Homo sapiens: one gene and its partner. The protein of the gene in region 1 purifies or fractionates together with the protein of each later gene. This does not show direct contact. Each region holds a gene or a part of one and is shown on either strand. Other genes may lie near its edges.

Evidence for each region.
Region 2: the proteins of C5AR1 (region 1) and RABL3 purify together in Homo sapiens (co-immunoprecipitation; 2 studies listed by BioGRID and IntAct, with this or other methods). This does not show direct contact.

The regions. Positions count from the first base shown.
Region 1 is NC_000019.10:47,302,673-47,314,557, forward strand, and holds the start of C5AR1 (C5a anaphylatoxin chemotactic receptor 1), read left to right. Parts: upstream 1-7,188; 5' UTR 7,189-7,223; coding exon 7,224-7,226; intron 7,227-11,885.
Region 2 is NC_000003.12:120,682,627-120,693,746, reverse strand, and holds the end of RABL3 (rab-like protein 3), read left to right. Parts: intron 1-3,259; coding exon 3,260-3,298; intron 3,299-3,643; coding exon of another isoform or gene 3,644-3,685; intron 3,686-3,858; coding exon 3,859-3,924; 3' UTR 3,925-8,809; downstream 8,810-11,120. UniProt on the Homo sapiens protein: Required for KRAS signaling regulation and modulation of cell proliferation. Regulator of KRAS prenylation, and probably prenylation of other small GTPases. Required for lymphocyte development and function. Not required for myeloid cell development.

The DNA of each region.
Region 1 (11,885 bases):
GGATTACAGGCGTGTGCCACCACGCCTGGCTAATTTTTGTATTTTTAGTAGAGACAGGGTTTCACCATGTTGGCCAGGCTGGTCTCGAACTGCTGACCTCGTGATCCACCTGCCTCGGCCTCCCAAAGTGCTGGGATTACAGGCGTGAGCCACCGCATCCGGCCTTCTTCTTCTTCTTTTCTTTTTTGAGACAGGGTCTCGCTCTGTCACCCAGGCTGGGTGATCATAGACAGTGGTGCGATCATAGCTCACTGCAGCCTCAATCTCCCAGGCTCAGGTGATCCTCCCACCTCAGTCTCCAGAGTAGCCGGGACCACAAGTGTGCACCACTACACTTGGCTAATTTTTGTATTTTTTGTAGACATGGGGTTTCTTCATGTTGCCCAGGCTGGTCTTGAACTCCTGGCCTCAAGCAATCCTCCCTCCTTGGCCTCTCAAAGTGCTGGGATTACAGGCGTGATCCACTGCACCCAGCTAAAGGATTTCTTATGCTGTTAAAACAGAACAAAGTGTTTTAAAATGTATTTACAAAAACATCATTCTGACGCCAGGTGCAGTGGCTCTTGCCTGCAATCCCAACACTTTGGGAGGCTGAGGTGAGAGGATTACTTGAGCCCAGGAGTTCGAGACAAGCCTGGGCAACATAGTGAGACCCCCGACTCTACAAAAAATAATAAAACCAAAATGAAAACCAAAACGTTATCCAGAAAAACAAAGTGATAAAGTACATTACTGGGGCCCAGCATGGTGGCTCACACCTGTAATCCTAGCACTTTGGGAGGTCGAGGTGGGAGGATCACCTGAGGTCAGGAGTTCGAGACCAGCCTGGCCGACATGGCGAAACCCCATCTCTACTAAAAATACAAAAATTTGGTGGCTCATGCCTGTAATCCCAGCACTTCGGGAGGCCAAGGCGGGCGGATCACGAGGTCAGGAGATCAAGACCGTCCTGGCTAACACGGTGAAACCCTGTCTCTACTAAAAAAAAAAAAATACAAAATATTAGCTGGGCATGGTGGCGGGCGCCTGTAGTCCCAGTTACTCGGGAGGCTGAGGCAGGAGAATGGCGTGAACCTGGGAGGCGGAGCTTGCAGTGAGCCGAGATCACGCCACTGTACTCCAGCCTGGGCAACAGAGTGAGACTCCATCTCAAAAAAAAAAAAAAAAAATTAGCCGGGCGTGGTGGCTGGGCGCCTATAATCCAAGCTACTTGGGAGACTGAGGCAGGAGAATCTCTTGAACTTGAGTGGCGGAGGTTGCAGTGAGCCGAGATTGTGCCACTGGACTCCAGCCTGGGCGACAAATTGAGACTCTGTCTCAGAAAAAAAAAAAAAAGTTATTGGAACAACTGGTGAAATTTCAGTGAGGGCTGAGTATAGTGTGGTATCAGTGGCATATTTCCTTATTTTGATAAATATATTGTGGTTATGTCAGAGAATATCCTGTCATAACCGCAATATAAGAGATACACAGTAACAAATTTATGGTAAAGGAGCATGATGTTTCCAAAGTACTCTCAAATGATTCCAGGAAAAACATAAGTAGACATAGATATATACGCCTGTATTATTTTTCTAGGGTTTACCAGCCCCCACAATTGCATGAGCCAATTTCTTTTTTTCTGTGTGTGTGTGACAAAGTTTCGCCCTTGTCACTCAAGGCTGGAGTGCAATGGCACGATCTCGGCTGACTGCAACCTCCACCTCCCGAGTTCAAGTGATTCTTCTCCCTCAGCCTCCCAAGTAGCTGGGATTACAGGTGCCCACCACCACACCTGGCTAATTTTTTGTATTCTTAGTAGAGATGGGGTTTCACCATGTTGGCCAGGCTGGTCTTGAACTCCTGACTTTCAGGTGATCCACCCGCCTTAGCCTCCCAAAGTGCTGGGATTACAGGCGTCAGCCACCGTGCCCGGCCTCTGTCTTTTTTTTTTTTTTTTTTTCGAGACAGGGTCTTGCTCTTTTGTCCAGGTTGCAGTGCAGTGGCACAATCATAGGTCACTGCAGCCTCGACCTCCTGGGCTCAGGTGATCCTCCTGCCTCTGCCTCCTAAGTAGCTAGGACTATAGGTGTGCTCCACCACACCTGGATAATTTTTTGTGTTTTGTAGAGATGGGGGTTTCACTATGTTACTTAGGCTGGTCTGGAACTCCTGGACTCCAGTGATCTTCCCACCATGGCCTCCCAAAATGCTAGGATTACAGGCATGAGCCATTGCTTCTGGCCCCAATTGCTTTCTTTTTCTTTCTTTCTTTTTTTTTTTTTTTGAGGCAGAGTCTCACTTTGTCGCCCAGGCTGGAGTGCAGTGGTATGATCTCGGTTCACTGCAACCTCTTCCTCCTGAGTTCAAGTGATTCTCCTGCCTCAGCCTCCCAAGTAGCTGGGACTACAGGTGCCTGCCACCATTCCCAGCTACTTTTTTGTATTTTTATTAAAGACGGGGTTTCACAATGTTGGTCAGCCTGGTCTCGAACTCTTTACCTCAAGTGATCTTCCCTCCTCGGCTTCCCAAAGTGCTGGGATTACAGGCGGGAGCCAACGCACCCGGCCGCTTTTACTATTCTTGCAACTTTTTTCATTTGACATTCCATCGAAATAAAAAGTTAAAAAAATTCTTTTTCTTCTGAGGGGGTGTTTTATCAAGGACACCTTTATCAAGGGTCCCGGGCCTAAAAATGTTAAGAACCCATGATTTACGGCTGAGGAGGCAACTTCCATCCAAAATCCTAAAAGTCAAGTTCCTGTGACCTGGCTTCCTGAACCTCCCCGCTCCTGCGCCCCCTGGAGGTCAGGGCTAGAACAACACGGCATTCCTATAATGCTCCAAATCGCCACAAATCGACCTTGGAAATCCTGGGTGAGTAACGCAGACTGCGCACATGGCTTCAATTAGCGGAACTAAAACTTGCTGAACATCGTGTACCCGCGTGTCCATGGCCAAACACAAACTCCACCTTTGTAAAAGTCTAGGTGAATTCCCAGCTGAATTCAGAAGCGTGACAGGAATGGGACTTTTCATTGGTGTCTTTTTCTTTTTTCTATTTTTAGAGTGGGGAGGAGTGTATTTCTGGATTGTTTAAATATTTACAATGAGCATGCATTTCCTTTGCAATTAAAAGAAAACCAGATTTTTTTTTTTTTTTTTTTGAGGCAGAATGTTGCTCTGTCCCCAGGCTGGAGTGCAGTGGCGCGATCTCGGCTCACTGCAACCTCTGCCTCCCGTGTTCAAGCAATTCTCCTGCCTCAGCCTCCTGAGTAGCTGGGACTACAAGTGCCCGCCACCACGCCCAGCTAATTTTTGTATTTTTAGTAGAGACGGGGTTTCACCATGTTAGCCAGGATAGTCTCAATCTCTTGAACTGGTGATCTGCCTGCCTCGGCTTCCCAAAGTGCTGGGATTACAGGCATGAGGACCGCACCCGGCCGAAAACCAGATTTTTAAAAATTGAAGTTTGCTGTAGAAAAATACTGTGGGAGAAAGTTGTGGGTGGTGTTTTGTAGAGTCGCAGAAGGACATGGGAAAAAAAAATTGAGTGTGTTTCTGTAATCATCATAACAATCACACTCATTGTGCCGTAGGCTCCAAGGGAGGGCTCTGAGCTGTGGTTACCAGATAAAATACAAGATTCTCAGGTAAAATGTGAAAAAAAAAATATTTTTGTGATCTTAACTCACTGCAGTCTTGATCTCCTGGGCTGAAGTGATCCTCCTGCCTCAGCCTCCCAGGTAGCTGGGACCACAGGCACGTGCCACCATGCCCAGCTAATTTTTAATTTATTTTGTTGAGATGGGATCTCACTATGTTGCCCAGGCTGCTCTCAAACTCCTGGCCTCAAGCGATCTTTCCTCGGTGTCCCCATGCCCTGGGATTACAGGTATGAAGCACCAGGCCCAACCCTGAAATTTAAAGTTAACTGGGCAGTCTGTAATGTGTTTTTGTTTGTGTAGGTGTGTGTGCTAAATCAGGCAACCCCCTATTCTGAGCAGAGGAGTGCTTTGATCTGACTTAGATTTTAATAGGCTCCCTCTGGTTGCTGGTGGAGATGAGACTACGGAGGGGGGGCAGTGAAGATCCCAGAGAGGAGGCTGCTGTAATGGTCCAAGCAGAAGGTGATAGTGATTTGGATCAGGGTAACAGAGCCGAGGTGGTGAGAGGTTGACAGGTCATGCATCTATTTCGAAGGAAAGGCCATGTCCAGGCTCCTTAGCTCGGCATTCAAGGCTTCTCTCCACCACTGGACACACTTACTCTCTAGCTTCTCAGACCCTGTTGCAGATAGAATCATGATCCCCAATGATGTCCACATCTTAATCCCCTGAACCTGTGAACAGGTGACCTTCCATGGCAAAAGGGACTTTGCAGATAGGATGAAGTTAAAGATCTTTAGATGGGGGAGCGATTATCCTGGATTGGGTCTGGGTGGGCTCAGTGGAATCACAAGAGTCCTTATATGAGGAAGATAGAAATTTGAGACATACGGTAGAGGAGGAGGTGATGAGACCACAGAGGCAGGGACGGGCGTGGTGCAACCACAAGCCAAGGAATTTCAGGAGCCACCTGAAGGTGGGAGAGGCAAGGAACAGATTCTCCCCTGGAACCTCTGGAGGGAGTGGTGACATCTTGATTTTGGACTTCTGGCCTGCAGAACCATGCCAAAATAATTGTCTGGCTTTTTTTTTCTTTTTTTTTCCTTGAGGTGGAGTCTTGCTTTGTCGCCCAGGCTGGAGTGCAGTGGTGCCATCTTGGCTCACTGCAACCTCCACCTCCCGGGTTCAAGTAATTCTTGTGCCTCAGCCTCCCGAGTAGCTGGGACTACAGGCATGCACCACCACACCCAGGTAATTTATGTATTTTTAGTAGAGATGGGGTTTTGCCATGTTGGCCAGGCTGGTCTTGAACTCTTGACCTCAATGATCTGCCCGCCTCAGCCTCCCAAAGTGCTGGGATTGCAGGCATGAGCCACTGCGCCCGGTCCTGGTGTTAAGCCCGCAGTTTGTGCTAATTGGTTACAGCAGCCTCGGGAAGGTAATCTAGGCTCCTTCCTTGCCCCAGGCTCTAGGAAGTATCTTAGCCCCCAGCCCTGGGCTGCAGACCTGTACCAGTCCATGGCCTGCTAGGAACCATGCAGCATCGCAGGAGGTGAGTGGCAGGTGAGTAAGTGAAGCTTCATCTGTATTTATAGCCACGCCCCTTCGCTCATATTACCGCCTGATCTGTCAGATCAGGGGCGGAATTACATTCTCATAAGAGCGTGAACCCAGGCCGGGCGCAGTGGCTCAAGCCTGTAATCCCAGCATTTTGGGAGGCTGAGGCGGGTGGATCACGAGGTCAGGAGTTCGAGATCAGCCTGGCCAAGATGGTGAAACCACGTCTCTACTAAAAATACAAAAATTAGCCGGGTGCAGTGGTAGGCACCTGTAGTCCCAGCTACTCGGGAGGCTGAGGCAGGAGAATCGCTTGAACCTGGGAGGCGGAGGTTGCAGTGTGCCGAGATCGTGCCACTGCACTCTAGCCTGGGTGAGAGAGTGAGACTCCATCTCAAAAAAAAAAAAAAAAAAAAAAAGAGCATGAACCCTGTTGTGAACAGCGCATGTGAGGGATCTGGGTTGCAAGCTCCTTATGAGAATCTAATGCCTGATGATCTGTCACTGTATCCCATCACCCCCAGATAGGACCATCTCGTTACAGGAAAACAAGCTCAGGGATTCCACTGATTCTACATTATGTTGAATTGTATAATTATTTCATTATATATTACAATGTAACAATAATAGATGGAGATGGTTGTGGCTTGTGTAGTTGGGGGACAGGGTAGCTCCATTTTCTATTGCCAACTTTATAACCCTAGAAGGATGATTTTTTTCTTTTCTTTTCTTTTTCTTTTCTTTTTTTTTTTTTTGAGATTGAGTCTTGGTGTTGTCAGCCTGGGCTGGAGTGCAATGGTGCAATCTCTGCTCACTGCAACCTCCGCCTCCTGGGTTCCAGCAATTCTCCTGCCTCAGCCTTCTGAGTAGCTGAGATTACAGGCACCCACCACCACGCCTGGCTAATTTTTGTATTTTTAGTAGAGATGGGGTTTCACCATATTGGCCAGGCTGGTGACGATGGTTTTTTTTTTTTGAGACAGAGTCTTGCTTTGTTGCCCAGGCTGGAGTGCAGTGGCGCAATCTTGGCTCACTGCAACCTCTGCCTCCCAGGTTTAAGCAATTCTCCTGCCTCAGCTTCCCAAGTAGCTGGGATTACAGGCACCTGCCACCACACCTGGGTAATTTTTGTATTTTTAGTAGAGACAGGGTTTCACCATGTTGGCCAGACTCGTCTTGAACTCCTGACCTCAAGTGATTCATTTGCCTCAGCCTCCCAAAGTGCTGGGATTATAGGTGTGAGCCATTGCACCTGGCCCTAGAAGGAAGATTTAACAGTAAAATATACTTAAATGCTGGGCTACCTCCGCAGACTAGCTCAGCCTCTTTGGGTCTCAAATCAGCCTGGCCGGGAGGCTGAGTGGAGGTTACAGTCTCTGCTTTCTTGAATCCCAAGGGAGGGGTTTAAGCCAACTGCATTCCTGAGCTTTTGCCCAGAAGGCTGGCGTCTTAGGAGGAAAGAGATAGATGGCTCCAGGCCGGGCGCAGTGGCTCACACTTGTAATTCTAGCACTTTGGGAGGTTGAGGTGGGTGATTGCCTGAGCTCAGGAGTTTGAGTCCAGCCTGGCCAACATGGCGAAACCCCGTCTTTACTAAAAATACAAAAAATTAGCCGGGGGTGGTGACACACACGTGTAATCCCAGCTACTCGGGAGGCTGAGGCAGGAGAAGTGCTTGAACCCAGGAGGCAGAGGTTACAGAGAGCCGAGATTGCACCACTCCACTGCAGCCTGGGCGACACAGCAAGACTCTATCAAAAAAAAAAAAAAAAAAATGAGAGAGAAGAGATGGCCCCAAATAGGGAAACCAAGGCCAGGAGAGGGGCCGAGCCTGCACAGGAGCTTCCTCGGTTTTCCGAGCGCCGGCCCCCCTTCTCTGCCTGGGAGGAGGTGGTTAGAGTCCCCTGGGTGTGTGCCCCGCAGAGGGAGCTCTGGCCTCAGTGCCCAGTGTGCAGACCAATGAGAGCCCCAGAGAGAAAGACGGTCATTTCCTCCCTGCATCTTCCCTTGGGGCTTTAAAAACCACAGCCCTTGGGCAGGAGGGACCTTCGATCCTCGGGGAGCCCAGGAGACCAGAACATGGTGAGTCTCGAAGGGGAATGGGAGCAGGAAACTTTGTCCTGGGTCCCTCCCATCTTTGCTCCAGTGGGTCCTTCTCTCTCCCCAACTCTCGCCGTCAACTCTGTCTGTCTCTCCCTTTCCTTCTCTCTCCCTGTCTTCCACCTCCCACCTTCCCTCTCTCCTGCATCCCAGGCTCTCACACTCCAGGGCTGGGATGTGGCCATGGGAATAAGATTGTCAAGATTGTGGGAGCAACAGCAACCTCGTGGGGCTGGGGCCCGAGAAGATTCCCCAGGGGAGGGGACCCTTGAGTTGGGTCTAGTAAGGTGACTAAGAATTCCACAAGCAGCCGAGCGCAGTGGGTCACACCTGTGATCCCAGCACATTGGGGATTGTGCCAAGGCGGGAGGATTGCTTGAGGCCAGGAGTTCAAGACCAGCCTGGCCAACATAGTGAGACCCTGTCTGTATTTTTTTTTTTATTTAAAGAATTCCACAAGTGAAGAAATCTAGAACAGGCCTTCCAGGCAGTGGGAATGGCAGAGAAAATGTTGGGAGGCTGGAAAGAACCAGTTTGGAGGAATGGTCAAGTTACTCAGATGCTCTTGCAGATAGATGTTCTTTTCTTTTTCGACTTGGGGTCTTGCACTGTTGCCCAGGCTGGAGTGCAGTGGCACCATCATAGCTCACTGCAGTCTTGAACTCTTGGGCTCAAGTGATCCTCCCTCTTTAGCCTCCTGAGTATCTGGGACCACAGGCATGCACCACTATGTCCGGCTAATTTTTAAAATTTTTATTCTTGTAGAGATGGGTTCTTGCTATGTTGTCAGGGCTGGTCTCAAATTCCTGGCCTCAAGCCATCCTCCCACCTTGGTCTCCCAAAGCTCTGGGATTACTGGCATGAGGCCATTATGCCTGGTCGTTTGAGATGTTCTGCATGACAGAGATGGGGAAACTGAGGCCCAGGCAGGAGCAGAGATGGATGGGGACCCTCCATGGTTGGTGGCAGAAGCAGGTTATGCCATGGATTCTGTGAGTGTCAGAAGGAATGCACCCCAGGCTAAATGAGGGTCCCTGTCATCCCTGCGTCTGGAGGCCTGGGCACTGAGCCAGCAGAGCTGCGATTCAGCACCTGCTGTAACACAGGCATTGCCTTGCTTCATCTGTGTCAAAGAGGAAACGGAAGATGGTTTGGATGGACCAGGGAGGGGTCTGATGTTGCTTCATTCCTGCATTCCACCCTTGAGATCCGACTTGGGCAAACGGGACTCTCTGATTCTTCTTCTTCTTTTTTTTTTTCTTTCCAAAACATTTTCCAAAGTACCAAATGATACTTGGTAAAAACTCATTCTCGGCCAGGCGCGGTGGCTCATGCGTGTAATCCCAGCACTTTGGGAGACTGAGGCGGGCGGATCACAAGGTCAGGAGATTGAGACCATCCTGGCCAACATGGTGAAACTCCGTCTCTACCAAAACTACAAAAATTAGCTGGGCATATAAGCGGGCGCCTGTAGTCCCAGCACTTGAGAGGCTGAGGCACGACAATCGCTTGAACCCATGAGGCAGAGGTTGCAGTGAGCCGAGATTGCTCTACTGCACTCCAGCCTGGCAACAGGGCCATCTCAAAAAACAAACATAGAAAAAAAAAAACTCATTCTCCCTGCCTACCCCAGAGCCTCTGACTCCTTTTCTTTCCTTTTATTTTGAGACAGAGTTTCACTCTTGTCGCCCAGGCTGGAGTGCAATGGCACGATCTTGGCTCACCACAACCTCTGCCTCGCGGCTTCAAGCAATTCTCCTGCCTCAGCCTCCCGACTAGGTGGGATTACAGGCATGCGCCACCACGCCTGGCTAATTTTTTGTCTTTTTAGTAGAGACGGAGTTTCACCATGTTGGCCAGGCTGGTCTTGAACTCCTGACCTCACGTGATCCACCCACATTGGTCTCCCAAAGTGCTGGGATTACAGGTATGAGCCACCCTACCTGGCCCTCTGACTCCTTTTCATTGCCTCCTACCCTACCTGGGGCAACCATGGGATGCCAGTTTGTGGTGGATCCTTCCAGAAACAGTTTACAGATGCCTGAGAGCACAGATGCTTAGGGAACAAAGTAAGGACTAGTGTGATGCGGGGAACCCCAAAACCGAGCTCAGCTTCTGTCTCTACTATGAAATAGTTGCGGAGATCTGTCCTCTCCGTGCTTCTGTCTCCTTATCTTTTTGTTTTTTGAGACAGTGTCTTGCTCTGTTGCCCAGGCTAGAGTGCAGTGGTGTGATCTCAGCTCACTGTAACCTCCACCTCCTGGGTTCAAGTGATTCTCCTGCCTCAGCCTCCCAGGTAGCTGGGACTACAGGTGCCTGCCACCATGCCTGGCTAATTTTTGTATTTTTAGTAGAGACGGGGTTTCACCGTGTTGGCCAGGCTGGTCTTGAACTCCTGGCCCCAAGCAATCTTCCCGCCTTGGCCTCCCAAAGTGCTGGGATTACAGGCGTGAGCCATCGCACCCAGCCTCCTTCTCCTTATCTTTAAGGTGAAGATAATACTAGAATCTACATCATAGGCTAGTTGAGAGAATTGACTGAGTGAATGCATGAAAAGTTCTTGTAGCAGTGCCTGGTATACAGTTGGCGCTCAATGTGGGTGACATTTCTATCCTTTCCCAGCCTTATAAATGGCAGTATGTTTTGTACAGTACTCTACATCTGGCTTTTTTAAATGAATAACATATAGTATTATTAACTAGCATTTATTGAGTGCTTACTGCATACCAGGCGTTGTATTAGGCATTCATTAATTTCCCCTTAACCTTGAGGAAGGTACTTCATTCCCGTGTAGTTCAAGGGAGTTGCCTCCTCCTCCTCCTCCTTTTTTTCTTTTTTCTAGACAGGGTCTACTGAGGTCTTCCACCTCAGCCTCCTGAGTAGGTGGGACTACAGGTGCATGCCACCACACCCAGCTAGATTTAAAATTTTTTGTAGAGGTGGGGTCTTGCTATGTTGCCCAGCCTGGTGCTTCTTTCTTTCTTTTATCAGCTGAGTAATATGCTAGTAGGAGGTTTCATCCCCTTCAATGGAAATTTAGTTTGCTTCTAATATTTGGTCTGTTTTGTTTTGTTTTGAGACAGAGTCTCGCTCTGTCACCCAGCCTGGAGGGCAGTGGTGCAGTCTTGGCTCACTGCACCTCTGCCTCCTGGATTCTGGTGATTCTCCTGCCTCGGCCTCCCAAGTAGCTGGTATCACAGGTGCGTGCCACCACACACGGCTAATTTTTGTATTTTATTTTAGTAGAGACGGGATTTCACCATGTTGGCCAGGCTGGTCTCGAACTCCTGACCTCGTGATCCACCCGCCTCAGCCTCCCAAAGTGCTGGGATTATAGGCGTGAGCCACCGCGCCTGGCGTCCAGCCACATTCTTTAACTCAGCATCTGCAGACCTTCCAGTCCTATCTTGGCCGCCTGCCAGCCATGCTGACCTTTCGTTTCTGCTGTGCACCACCTGCCCTTCCTCTCTCCTTTCTGCCTAGAATGCATGCCCCCCCACTCCCAATGCACTTTAGGCCTGCCTGGTAGCCACTCAAACAGAGGGCTCTGGGCTGGGCGCGGTGGCTCATGCCTGTAATCCCAGCACTTTGGGAGGCTGAGGTGGGTGGATCACGAGGTCAGGAGATCAAGACTATCCTGGCTAACACGGTGAAACCCTGTCTCTACTAAAAATAAAATTAGCCAGGCATGGTGGCGGGCACCTGTAGTCCCAGCTACTCGGGAGGCTGAGGCTAGCAAATGGTGTGAATCCAGGAGGCGGAGCTTGCAGTGAGCTGAGATCGCGCCACTGCACTCCAGCCTGGGGACAGAGCGAGATTCCGTCTCATAAAAAAAAAAAAGAGAGAGAGGGCTCTGGGGCTCAGCTCTCAGGAGTTTCTCTCCTGTCTCTGTTCTTGCTAACCGAGAAGACTTGGAGAGGTCTGTTCATTTCTCTGTAGCCTCATTTTTCTCTTCTGGAAAATGAGTGTTGCTGTTGCAACAAGTAAGTCTCCTAGGGTTGCTTTGTGGGTTCAATGAGATAATACACGAGAAAGGCTCAGGACAGCCTGGCAATGATTATGGCTGTTCTTGTAGGTACTGCGCCTTCTCCTTCACCCTGTTCTCATCCGATCGTTCACATCTTGCGGCCAGCACCCTTGTCTAAGCCACCGTCATGCCTCACGTCACCTGGACAGTTCCAATCTCCGTTTCCTCCCAGCTTCTGCTCTCTGCCCCTTTCTCCATGCAACAGACAAGGGTTGTTCCTCTAATGAGCATGTGAATTTAGGAAGAATAATAGTACCCTGCCCTTTGTGCTATTGTCACATAGATATGCACTGTGATTAGGAAATTACTAAGCCAACACCTGGGAAGCACATGGAATAGTGCCGGGCAATTAGAACCCCCAGAGTGGCCCTGGACCTGCACTGCCCAATATGTGGGCCACGTGCCACAATGCAGCTACCTACGTTTATTTTTCACTATTTTATTTTATTTTACTTTATTTATTTTATTTTTGAGATGGAGTTTTGCTCTTGTTGCCCAGGCTGGAGTATAGTGAAGCGATCTCGGCTCACTGTAGCCTCCACCTCCCGGGTTCCAGTGATTCTTCTGCCTCAGCCTCCCAGATAGCTGGGATTACAGGCGCACGCCACCACTCC
Region 2 (11,120 bases), on another chromosome or scaffold:
ATGTTACTGTTACCTTTTAAGGTAATGTCTTCTTGATTTCCTAGTGTTTCCCTCTCAGAAATATTTGCATTCCAATTATTGACTCTCTGCTAACATTGTTTTATTGTCCTCAGCTGGAAGGAAAATGTAGAATGACTCAGCATACTGGTAAATTAGAGCACTCTTTGTCTTTCCTTCACAAAGCCATACAACTTTATTGCACATAGTATTGACCAAGTTTAAGTTGTTTGTCCAATGCTCACATTGCATAGTAAGGTAAAACAGGATGTCTTTCTGCATGTATTATTGAAAAAGGTTAATTCCTGTGTTATATTTCTTTTTAAGTGACATCTCCTAAGAAAATCATCTTCCCCATAGCTCTTCTTTATCAATCATTTTTTTCTTTTAACTATTTAGGGATTTAATAATTGGCCCTTTTGTTCAGCATTGGATAAGCCCCACCTTTAGATAATTTGGGATTTAATATTTGGCCTTTTTATCAGCACTAGATAAGCTCCAGCACCCTCCTCGATTAATATTAGGCCACTAGGAAAATTTTGCTTCACTGCAAAACTTCTTAACTGATATGTGGGAAATAGGGTACAGATGTGCCTAGATGCTGATTTCCCTCAGTTCTCAGAGCAGCCAGGGTCCTCAGGGTGGGGGGGTTGGGTGATTGGCAACCGCTTCCATTTTCTCCAGTGTGCTATACAAATATTAGCATTTTCTACGTGTGCCATGACATGAAAAATGTTGTGCAGCACTGCAAGGAGCCAGATTTTTTGCCCACATTGTTTTCAAACTTAAAATATAAGAATTTCCATTTGGTTTAGATCTATGGCCCCATCAATACAAAATTCTGTCCCTTATGAGCAACATCTTATAGATCTGCCCTGACCTGGAAAGATCCCACAGTATGTTGTTTAAATTTAAAATTTTATTAGTTCTAAAATTAAAAAATAAGATATACTAAATTACATCCTAGAGAAACTGGGTTATTGATTGGTATAATCCGAGTTGTCAGGCAAGGCTTTATTTTTTAAAAAATCAGGAGTACACATTGCAAGTCAGGGGTAAAGAATTATGACCAAAACCAAAAAGGTAACTTCTCTTTTATTGCCTGAATCACAACAAAATGTATGTGGGTTAGGAGGTTGGCCAGACCTCCAGACTGAGGTGGTTGCCTGAAACCAAAGGAGCTGACAACCAGATTTCACCCAGTTTTCTATACATCAGTTCTTCCAGAATTTAGCATAAAGATTTATTCTCCAGCCGGGCACGGTGCCTCACGCCTGTAATCCCAATACTTTGGGAGGCCGAGGCGGGCAGATGACGAGGTCAGGAGATCAAGACCATCATGGCTAGCATGGTGAAACCCCATCTCTAGTAAAAATACAAAAAATTAGCTGAGTGTGGTGGCGGGCGCCTGTAGTCCCAGCTACTCAGGAGGCTGAGGCAGGAGAATGGCGTGAACCCAGGAGGTGGAGCTTGCAGTGAGCCGAGATCGCACCACTGCACTCCAGCCTGGGTGACAGAGCAGGACTCCATCTGAAACAAACAAAAAAAAAAGATTTCTTCTCCAAAAGGAAGTCTAACTCCTTCTCCAGCCTCTTTCAACTAGTAGTAATTCCTCACGCTCCAGAATAATCAGATTTTCCTGTCCTGCCATAGAGAGGAAAGGGAATCAGTCTCCTTCTTGGTTTTTGTGGGATTGTTTTAAGATGTACACTAATGATAAACCAACTTTTCTACCTCTGGGGTAAGTGAATGCAACTTTGCCCTGGTGTCTTGTGGCTAAAAATAATCCAGCTATAGTCTCCAAGACAGCAAGAATCTGGATGAATGGCTGTCGCACCAGAGAGAGCAAGCTGGTCTTGGTCTTGGATCTGGATGAATGGTCTTGGTGTTGAATCTGGATGAATGGCTGTGGCACCAGAGAGAGCAAGCTGGTCTGTTCTCATTCAGAGGAACTCTTAGCTGCATAATTTCAGATTTGAATGTCTTAGAGTTCATCTCCAGCTGATCTGTATTATTATCCGATTAACTTTTCTTATCACAGCAGGTCTATGTAAAGAAAATACAGCTATTCCTCAACTTGCGATAGGGTTATATCTCAGTAAACCCCTTGTAAATTGGAAACATTGTTAGTCAAAAATACATTTATTACACCCAACTTACCAAGCATCGCAGCTTAGCCTAGCCTTCCTTAAACATGCTCAGAACACTTATGTTAGCCTACAGTTAGGCAGAATCATCTAACACAAGCCTATTTTATTAAAAAGTTGTGAATGGCTCATGTAATTTATTGAATACTATACTGAAAGTGAAAAAAGTGCCCATTGTATGGGCACTCAAAGTACAGTTTCTACTGAATGCATGTTGCTTTCACACCACCATAAAGTCAAAAAATCGTAGTCAAGCCATCCTAAATCAGAGACCATTTATAATACTTCCTCTGTAACCATTGCAGTTTCTCAAGTGTCAGAACAGAATTTATTATTCTTGAAAATGTTTTTCATCATCTGGAAACATGGTGCTCTTTAGGGTTTACAGCAGTTTTGGGAAAAAATGAAAACATGGTGCTCTTAAACTTATTACATTTGGACATATATTTTGAGGGTTTCTTTTCAATAATGGTGATGGATTTGTGCAGATACATCTGCTGCTTGAACATGTTTTTTCTACTTATCAAATGCAGGTAATTCTGAAACTACTGAAGTAAGGGTGCAGTTAGTTAAAAAAAAGTAGACAATTTACAACAGTCATTAGACTGCTTTTGATGTTGTGTCATCTGTCTATATTGAGGACATATAGAATTTGTCACCACTTACTATAGGGATGTGGTGGTTTGCTATGTTAAACAGTCCCCTCTTTAAGAAATAGACAAGACTATTGTAGCAGGCAAGTGCTTTTTTTATTTTATGGATGCTGTTTAGTACCTTTTGGGACTGACTGCTAGGAAACTTAGAGTCAGATTTGCTGTCATACTCTAAGAATTGCATAGGATCTTATATCATTCTATCATTATTTAGTTTTTGTTATTCATTTATTTTTTGATCTATCATTAATGCGTTTTGGAATGAGGCAGGCTTTTATGGAAATACTCTCACAATTCTGATCTCATTAACACCAGATTTTTAGCTGACTGTACTACATGTCTACTGCTATGGAAAAGATTCTTAGTTTGGATATATTCCTTTTAGTACCATTAGTGGTCGTTGCAGTTAGCCACTTTTTGCAGGTATGTGTGCTAAGCCTTTAAAATCTTTGTTTTTCACAGGTCATAGAGAAGAGATACTTTTTAAGAGAAGGTAATCAGGTTGGTATCTCTTTTCTTGATAAAATAGATTCTTAAATTTTGATAGGTGATTTCCAAATTTAAGTTCAGAAGTAGTTTTAAAAAGTTGGGGAAAGCCCTTTATAGGCACAAGCAACTGATTTCCTTCTATCCTGTTAAATACAAAAGGAGAAAATCAGAACAAAGGGAAAATAAGGATCTAGGAAACAAATATAATCTAGGAATAAGATTACATTATAAAATAGAAGAAGAAAATAATTTGCTTGGGACTCCAAGAGTATACGTTCAGGGTCTGTCACAATACAAATAATTTCTATAAAAGTCTAGTAGGTATTATGAGATTTACCTTCATTCTTTCTGATTTAGATGACACTATCACCAATTTGTTGGGAAATGTTTTCCATTTGGGTAAGATTTATTTTTATTATTTAATCTGTGGTTTTCTGAGTAAAACCTCAGAAAGTTGTTTTTTTAAGAAACAGCAGGCTGACATACAGAAATGGAAAAGAAGGGAAAAATTACTATTAGTATTTGAACTTTTATTGCTTGAGACTTAATGCAATTATCTTTCTTGCCTACAGATTCCAGGCTTTCCTGATCGGAAAAGATTTGGGGCAGGAACATTAAAGAGCCTTCATTATGACTGAATTACACTCATCCTTTGGAAGAGTGAGCAAGCAGTGGCAGTTTTTCACAGCTCATCTTGCTGTGTTCAATTATTACCATCACAGCCTTTTAACAAAATCATCTTAAAATGCTACCCTTCAGCCTTACCCTTTAATGGAAAAATGAAAGGAAGTGACAATACGGGAGGTCCAAACTTTGTCCCTGTTCTCTGTGTTCCTTACCTTTCTGTCCCTGTGTATAGATTATGTAAAAGCCTTGTGTAAATATGAGATGTTGTCAAAATGATGCAGTAAATGAGCAATGACAGTGTACTGCAGAGAAAATTTACTCTTGCCTAGAACTGGAGGGTTTTTATGGGTCTGTAATTTTCCCACACTCATTGCTGAAAGCTTAATTAAGTACTTCAAAAACGTATCTCCATTGTTTTACCTTCTTGAGGGGAACGGTCTTGTTAACCAGCCCTGAGTTGTCTACCCCAAACAATCTCTGTCATTTTCAAAGATGCAAAATGGTGTTATTTAATTGTCTCCACCATTGTCACACACAGGAATGCCTAATAATAGCAACCCTTGTCTCCCTCTTCTCTCCTTTGCAAATGGCTCAGTGACTGGAAGAGGCGGACTAATAGCCAGAGTTAAATATAAATACAAATTAATAATACATAGAGAACAGCAATACCAGAAAAAAAGAATTCTGGTAAAATGATGTGAAAAATTGACAGCTCCCTCACTCTTAAGGTTGCTGCTATATACAGTCTAGGTTTTCTGTTTGGAAATAGGTAGGGTAAAATCTAAGACCTGCACAAGGGCAGTGAGAGACATTTACAGCCTCCTCTCTATTTGTTTTTTTAAGGAAAAGTCAACTCCTGAAATGTCCCTTAGCTATAATCAGAAAACTAAGAATATTATTCTGTGTCAACAATGTATTTATGGAGAGAAGTAAAAATAAGTTCCACAGCAACACATTTACATGAATTATGAACTAGGATTCTTGGATTTCATAATCACTCCAAAGCTTTTTGGGGATGGTGTGTGTGTGTGTGTGTGTCCGTAATTGTTCATCATTACTTTTTTTAACCTATCTTTTTGCTTGCTTAATCTTCTCTGCCCCAGTTCTTCCTGAGTATATGAATTTGATTTCTAAAAACAATTTATTCAACACTCTATCACCCGTATTCTCTCTCTGGCTCTGCTGCAGGTCTCTGCACTCCTGATTTTGCTCCATACTTTTAAATAACAATAATAAATATACAGTTTTCATTTCTCATTTAAAAAATAGGTGGAAAACACCAAATTCACTTTCTGTTCCATTTTAATTAGGTTTCAGAAGTATCTTGGAAATCAAGGTATGCTGCAAGAGGATATTAAAATAAGAATGTTAGAGAGTCCTTTTAGAAAGGCAGTCTTGGGAATTTGGAAAAGGATTTTTAAAGCAGCTTTCATCAGCTAGACTGTTCTCCAGCCTTTCTTTACTTCCTCTTTGAAAGGACATAGCCCTGGTTTCTTTTTGACACAAAGGAAAGCTATGCAAATCATGATCTGTATGTAGAATTGGTCACAAGTATGTTGTTGCATAGGCTGTACAGTTGGGAAGTAGAAACCAAATGCTACCCAGAGACCTAACCCAATTAAGCTCTTTGTATTTCTCCTTCAAGAAATAAATCTTCCTTCCTTCTTTCTTCCTCTTTCTTTTAATTTTAAAAAAATTCATCCTGATTTTTTTATTTTCTATCTTATTTAAAAAATAAAAATAGGCCAGGCGCGGTGGCTCACACCTTTAATCCCAACACTTTGGGAGGCGGGTCGATCACTTGATATCAGGAGTTTGAGACCAGCCTGGCCAACATAGGGAAACCCTGTCTCTACTAAAAATACAAAAATTAGCCAGGCCTGGTGGCACGCGCCTGTAATCCCAGCTACTTGGGAGGCTGAGGCAGGAGAATCACTTGAACCTGGGAGGTGGAGGTTGCAGTGAGTCAAGATCGTGTCACTGCACTCCAGCCTAGGTGACAGAGTGAGACTCCAACTAAAAGAAAATAAATAAATAAATATATAAATATATAAATAAATAATAAAAGTAAACTATTGCTGATGACTCCAGGGTCAATCTGGAAAAATTAACAGTATTCCTCAACTCCATTACTTTCTGCAGCCAAGCTTGATTCCTTGAATTATAGTTTTCTAAGAAAAAATAGTTTTTAATAATCTAAGGTAAATTTGTTGCAATTATTAGCAGCAGCATAATAAGGCTTTTTGCGCAAATGAATGTTATTAGCTAGAGTTATTCAAAAAAGAATGAAGCACAATTTTTGCTAGGACTTCTTGAGAACTATTCATAAAAATGCTTTTAGATAATAAACAAGTATAAATGTCAAAATATTTTTTTAAAAGTATAATTGGCCAGGTGCTGGCTCACGCCTATAATCCCAGCACTCTAGGAGACTGAGGCAGGAGGATCACTTGAGCTCGGGAGTTTGAGGCTGCAGTGATTCATGATTGCACCACTGCCTTCCAGCAGCCTGATGACAGAGTGGGACTCCATCTCTTTACATATGTATATCTTACTCTCTTGATGGGACAAGTTGGTAGAAATAAAGATTTTTTTTTTCTGTTGTGATTTCGGTGTCTGACCAATTTTCTGACTCATTGTGAAGGTGACCAGATATGAAGGCATATATATGACTACTCCTCTGTCCCTTAGGTGTATAAGACTTAGCTGGAATCCAACTAAAGATTTGGGCTGGTCTCTCCATCTTAACGTTGATGGGATTCAGGACACATAACCCCAAAATATTGCACCCTGTTATTTGAGAAAACTGCAGAAGCAAGGTTTCTCATACCTTCCCCTTACCCCTTCTCCCCTGAAGCAGGCCATAAACCCTAAGTGACTGTTCCCTGAAGTAGATCATAAAACCTTCATTCCATAGGTACCCTTTATCCTCACAGATACAGAGACACCAAGAAGAATCTGGACAAATAGGACTTGCTAAGTTCTCCACAGTTTATTACCATTAGATTATGTCCTTTTGTCCTCTGATTATACTTCTGCATAAGACTGTACATAAAAATACACAAGTTTTCCTATTTCTTTTTTGTCTTCATTTCTGAAGATTCCTGTCATGTAAAACTTACAGTAAATAAATGTGTGTGCTTTTCTCAATAATCTGTCTTTCGTTATAGGTGCCTCATTTGTGAACCTAGTGATGGGTGAAGAAAGAAAGCTCTTCTCCGCTACAGTGCTCTAAGAAAAGCTATTCCCAAAAGAGTTGATCCATATTAGCTTTAGCTCGGGTTCTTAGAATTCCTCAAACTTGAGGCATTCATGATATAATCCAGGTGCCCTGACACTTGTTTTTCTGTTCATTCTGACATGGACTTCATGGAAATGATGTGCAGGGACATCAGACTGAGGTGAAGAGCTCCTAATTGCTCCTTGTAATCAGAGTTTCTGAGTCCTCATTTCAATAGTTTGCAGTAGCACCCACCATAGGTAGGACCTTGTATGGGTTACTAGATGGTGGCTTAATTGAATTTTTTAAAGCACAGGTGACATCATATTTTAAGAAGTTTAAAGGTCTAACAGGGTGTCTGCATTGGTTTAATATATGTTAAAATTCAAAGGAGGAGTCTGTTTTGGGGAAAGGAGGAGAAGGAAATTAGAAATTCATTTCTCCGCAGTCCCAAGACTGAGCTAAATCACTGTGGTGGGAGAGGAAGGGTCGCAGGAAGTCTAACCCTGTGTCTCAAATATTTCACAACATGTTTGCCTACACAAAATATCTGATGTTAGGGTCAGCTGGGGCTGCTCCATAGCATAGTAAAGGAATTGGACATCCAGTTACAATTAATCTGCACCTCCATTAAGGACTCACATGGAGGGCTTTCAAACTCTGAAGTGTGTAAGAATCCCCTGAAGTGCTTGCTGAAAATGCAGATTCCACGATTTCCTCTCTCTTCCCTTACTCTCCCCTTTCTATATGTATAGGATAAGGCCAGGATTTTGTATTTTTAACAGACAAGCCAGATTTTTCTCATGCAGATAAGTCAGGATCTAGCCTTTAAGAAAGACAAATAAACTCATCAAAAAGTAGGGAATATAGATTGTGAACTCTGTACTTTATGAGTGCCATTATAGCAGAATTCATCAAAGCGCATCTTTGACTGCCTCAACCTGATCTCACCTTAATGAACTGATCCACTCCTCCCCACTCAAAGCTACATATGCCAAATTAAACATGAGATGATTGTCATGTCTTCTGTTGGCAAAACAAGTATTTGTCTTTCATGTATTGCTATCATTTTTATTACTGCCACTGTTTTTCCCCTGGGTTCTGTTTTTAATCCAAATATATTTATTTCTAACCAGTGCCTTGCCATCTTACACACAGCCCCCTCTCTAGTACTGTGTTTTCTCAGCTGGCTAATCACTAAGCTTTACCGAGGTCATCAATAACTAATGACAAAGAATGGAACCCCTAAACTCCAACCAAGGTGTAAAACCTCGCTCAGTACCATCAAGTATATCAGGTAATCTCTCCGTTCCATCTTTTTCTCGGAGACATCTGTCCTGGAGTCCTCTGATGCCTAACTCCGTTTTGGAGTGATTACTCTGTAGACCTGTCACACCCTGCTTCACATTACCTTGTAGCAATTCCTGGATGTAATGTTTTCCACTTTCTATCCAACTCTTACTCTATGGGACTTGGCTCAGACATAGTCTTCTCTGGGAAGCCCTCCCTGGCTCTGCTCGTCTGGGCTACGTGCCCACTAGTGCTTCCCCTAGATCCCTGGGCTCTTTCCTGTCAGAGCACTTACACTATGTTGTGATGGTTTTCAAAAATTGTTAAATAAATGAATGTATAATTACATTAATTAAAATGGAAAGCCATTAGACATAGAATCAGAACTTATCTGTAGCTGTGTAAGTTATTTATTCTCCAATCCCAGCAGGACATGATGGCTTATGCCTGTAATTCCAATACTTTGGGAGGCTGAGGCCAGAGGATGGCTTATGCCTGGGAGTTAAAGGCTGCAGTGAGCTGTGATGATGCCACTGCACTCCAGCTTGGATGACACAGCAAGACTCTGTCTCTAAAAAAAAACATTAAGTCAGGTGCAGGAGTTCACGTCTGTAATCCCAGCACTTTGGGAGGCTGAAGTGGGAGGATTGCTTGAGCCTAGGAGTTCAAGTTCAGCCTGGGCAACATGACGAGACCTCATCTCTACTAAAAAATTTTTAAAGTAGCCGGGTGTGGTGGTGTGTGCCTGTAGTCCCAGCTACTCAGGAGGCTGAGATGGGAGGATCGCTTTAGCCCAGGAGGTTGAGGCTTCAGTGAGCCATTTTTGTGCCACTGCACTCCAGCCTGGATGACAGAGAACCTGTCTCAAAAAAAAAATTAAATAATAAAATAATATTTTAATATCCCCTGTGTGTATTCTCTCCTTTTAGAAGGAATCCCTAAAGTTTAGTGAAAGATGTATTCAACTTTAAATATTTTCAAGCCCCTCAAAGTAATTTTAATCCAGTCAAGGAACTGTTAACACTTTCTTACCCCTTCAGAAGTCTCTCATACCTTAGGAAAGAACTGAAACACTTCTTAAATCTGCCTTCACAACTGGTTCAATGGAAGTAACATAGAAAGTTTGTTGAAAAATAAGGCAGTAAAGATTTCCCTTTGTCTTTTATTAGCTCCCATTTGTTTATCTAATGACCAACTGCTAACTTCCAAGATCAATAGAGATTGAAGGCCCAAGGTACTCATAAACTTAGATACACAGGAGATATTTTCTTCGAATTCAGTTTCAGAGTCTGCATGTTATAGGAATAGTGAAAACTTAGCCTCAATAAAGCTAGGGCCTCCACCTACCTTCCTCCTAGGTTTGCATATGAATTCCAGAATAGTTTATATAATGCCACAATGCCATCTGTCTATGCTGACATATGCTGAGGTTTCCTATCAGCTGCCCGGTCCGTAGGCATCAGTCCACATGGTTTGCTACCAGCATGTTTCCTATCAACATGTCCCCTTTGGTCTGGCCCAGTCTGTGCTAGCACCTCATACACAGGCAATAATTCTGCTGCTACTGCAGTATGCTGGAGCCTGGGGACCCTTGGAGGTTGTTTAAGCCCATTTATCTAAAGCAGAGGGTCTCAAACTAGCAGCCTGTGGCCACTTCAAATATGCACATGTTTTTCAACCTGCATGATTATATCAGTTATTTATCACTGCTTAACAAACCACCCCAAAATTTAGTAGTGTGAAATACACCATTCTATTTGTTCCCAATTCTGTGGCTCAGCAGTTCGGGCCAGATTTAACTGGTGGTTCTTCTGCTGGTCTTGCCTGGGATCACACATGTTCTGCAGTCACCTGGCAGCCAGACTGCCTCATTCACATGTCTGGCAGTTCCTGTGGGGCTTGCAGGGCTGTTGCCTGGACCTCTGGAGGCCAGCCCAGCTTCTCTGCACTGTGGTCTCAGGCTGCAAGAATGGGCCCTGTCCTAAGGCACAGGCATGTTTCAAACTCTGTGTCATGTTTGCTACTAGCCAAAGAAAAAGACCCTACCTCTTGATGGGAGGAACAGCAAAGTCACATTCAAAGGGGCACACATACAAGGATAGGAGGAATTGGAGCATTTTTTGCCATCTACCACAGGGTGGTTTCTCTGTCTCTCTCACTCTAATTACCAATGGTTAAAAATTGGAGCTTCATCTTATCTTGAAAAATCAGCTAGCCTACTTTATTCACTTACACTTCCTCCCTCATCTGTTGGCATTTGAGTTGTGATAATGCCTAATTTACAAGATTGTTTTTGTGAAGTTAGATATGGAAAAATCTGACAAAAGCAGAAACTCAATATATGTTTTCTCCTTTCTGAACACCACTAGTCATGAAGCTGCTACCTGCCAATGACCAAGGAGAGCGGCCAAGATGAAGAACAAGGGAGTCATAGAGGAGGTGGCTGGAGAATAATCCCTTGGTCTGTTTTAGAAGTATAGAGGCATTAGGAAACAAAACTCTTAAAGAATTTATAAGAAAACTAAACGTACTTTAAGAAATTAAAAGGAGCAGTAGGAAACATATCAGTTTGCTCTAAGTGAAATATCTCAGGCTCTGAATGGTTCACCCAAGAACCTGAGCTCATTCCTGGGAGGCACCTGCAGAAAACTGGTTCTGGTCCTGGTCCCTGTCTTCAGGTGGCTGTGTGTAAACATC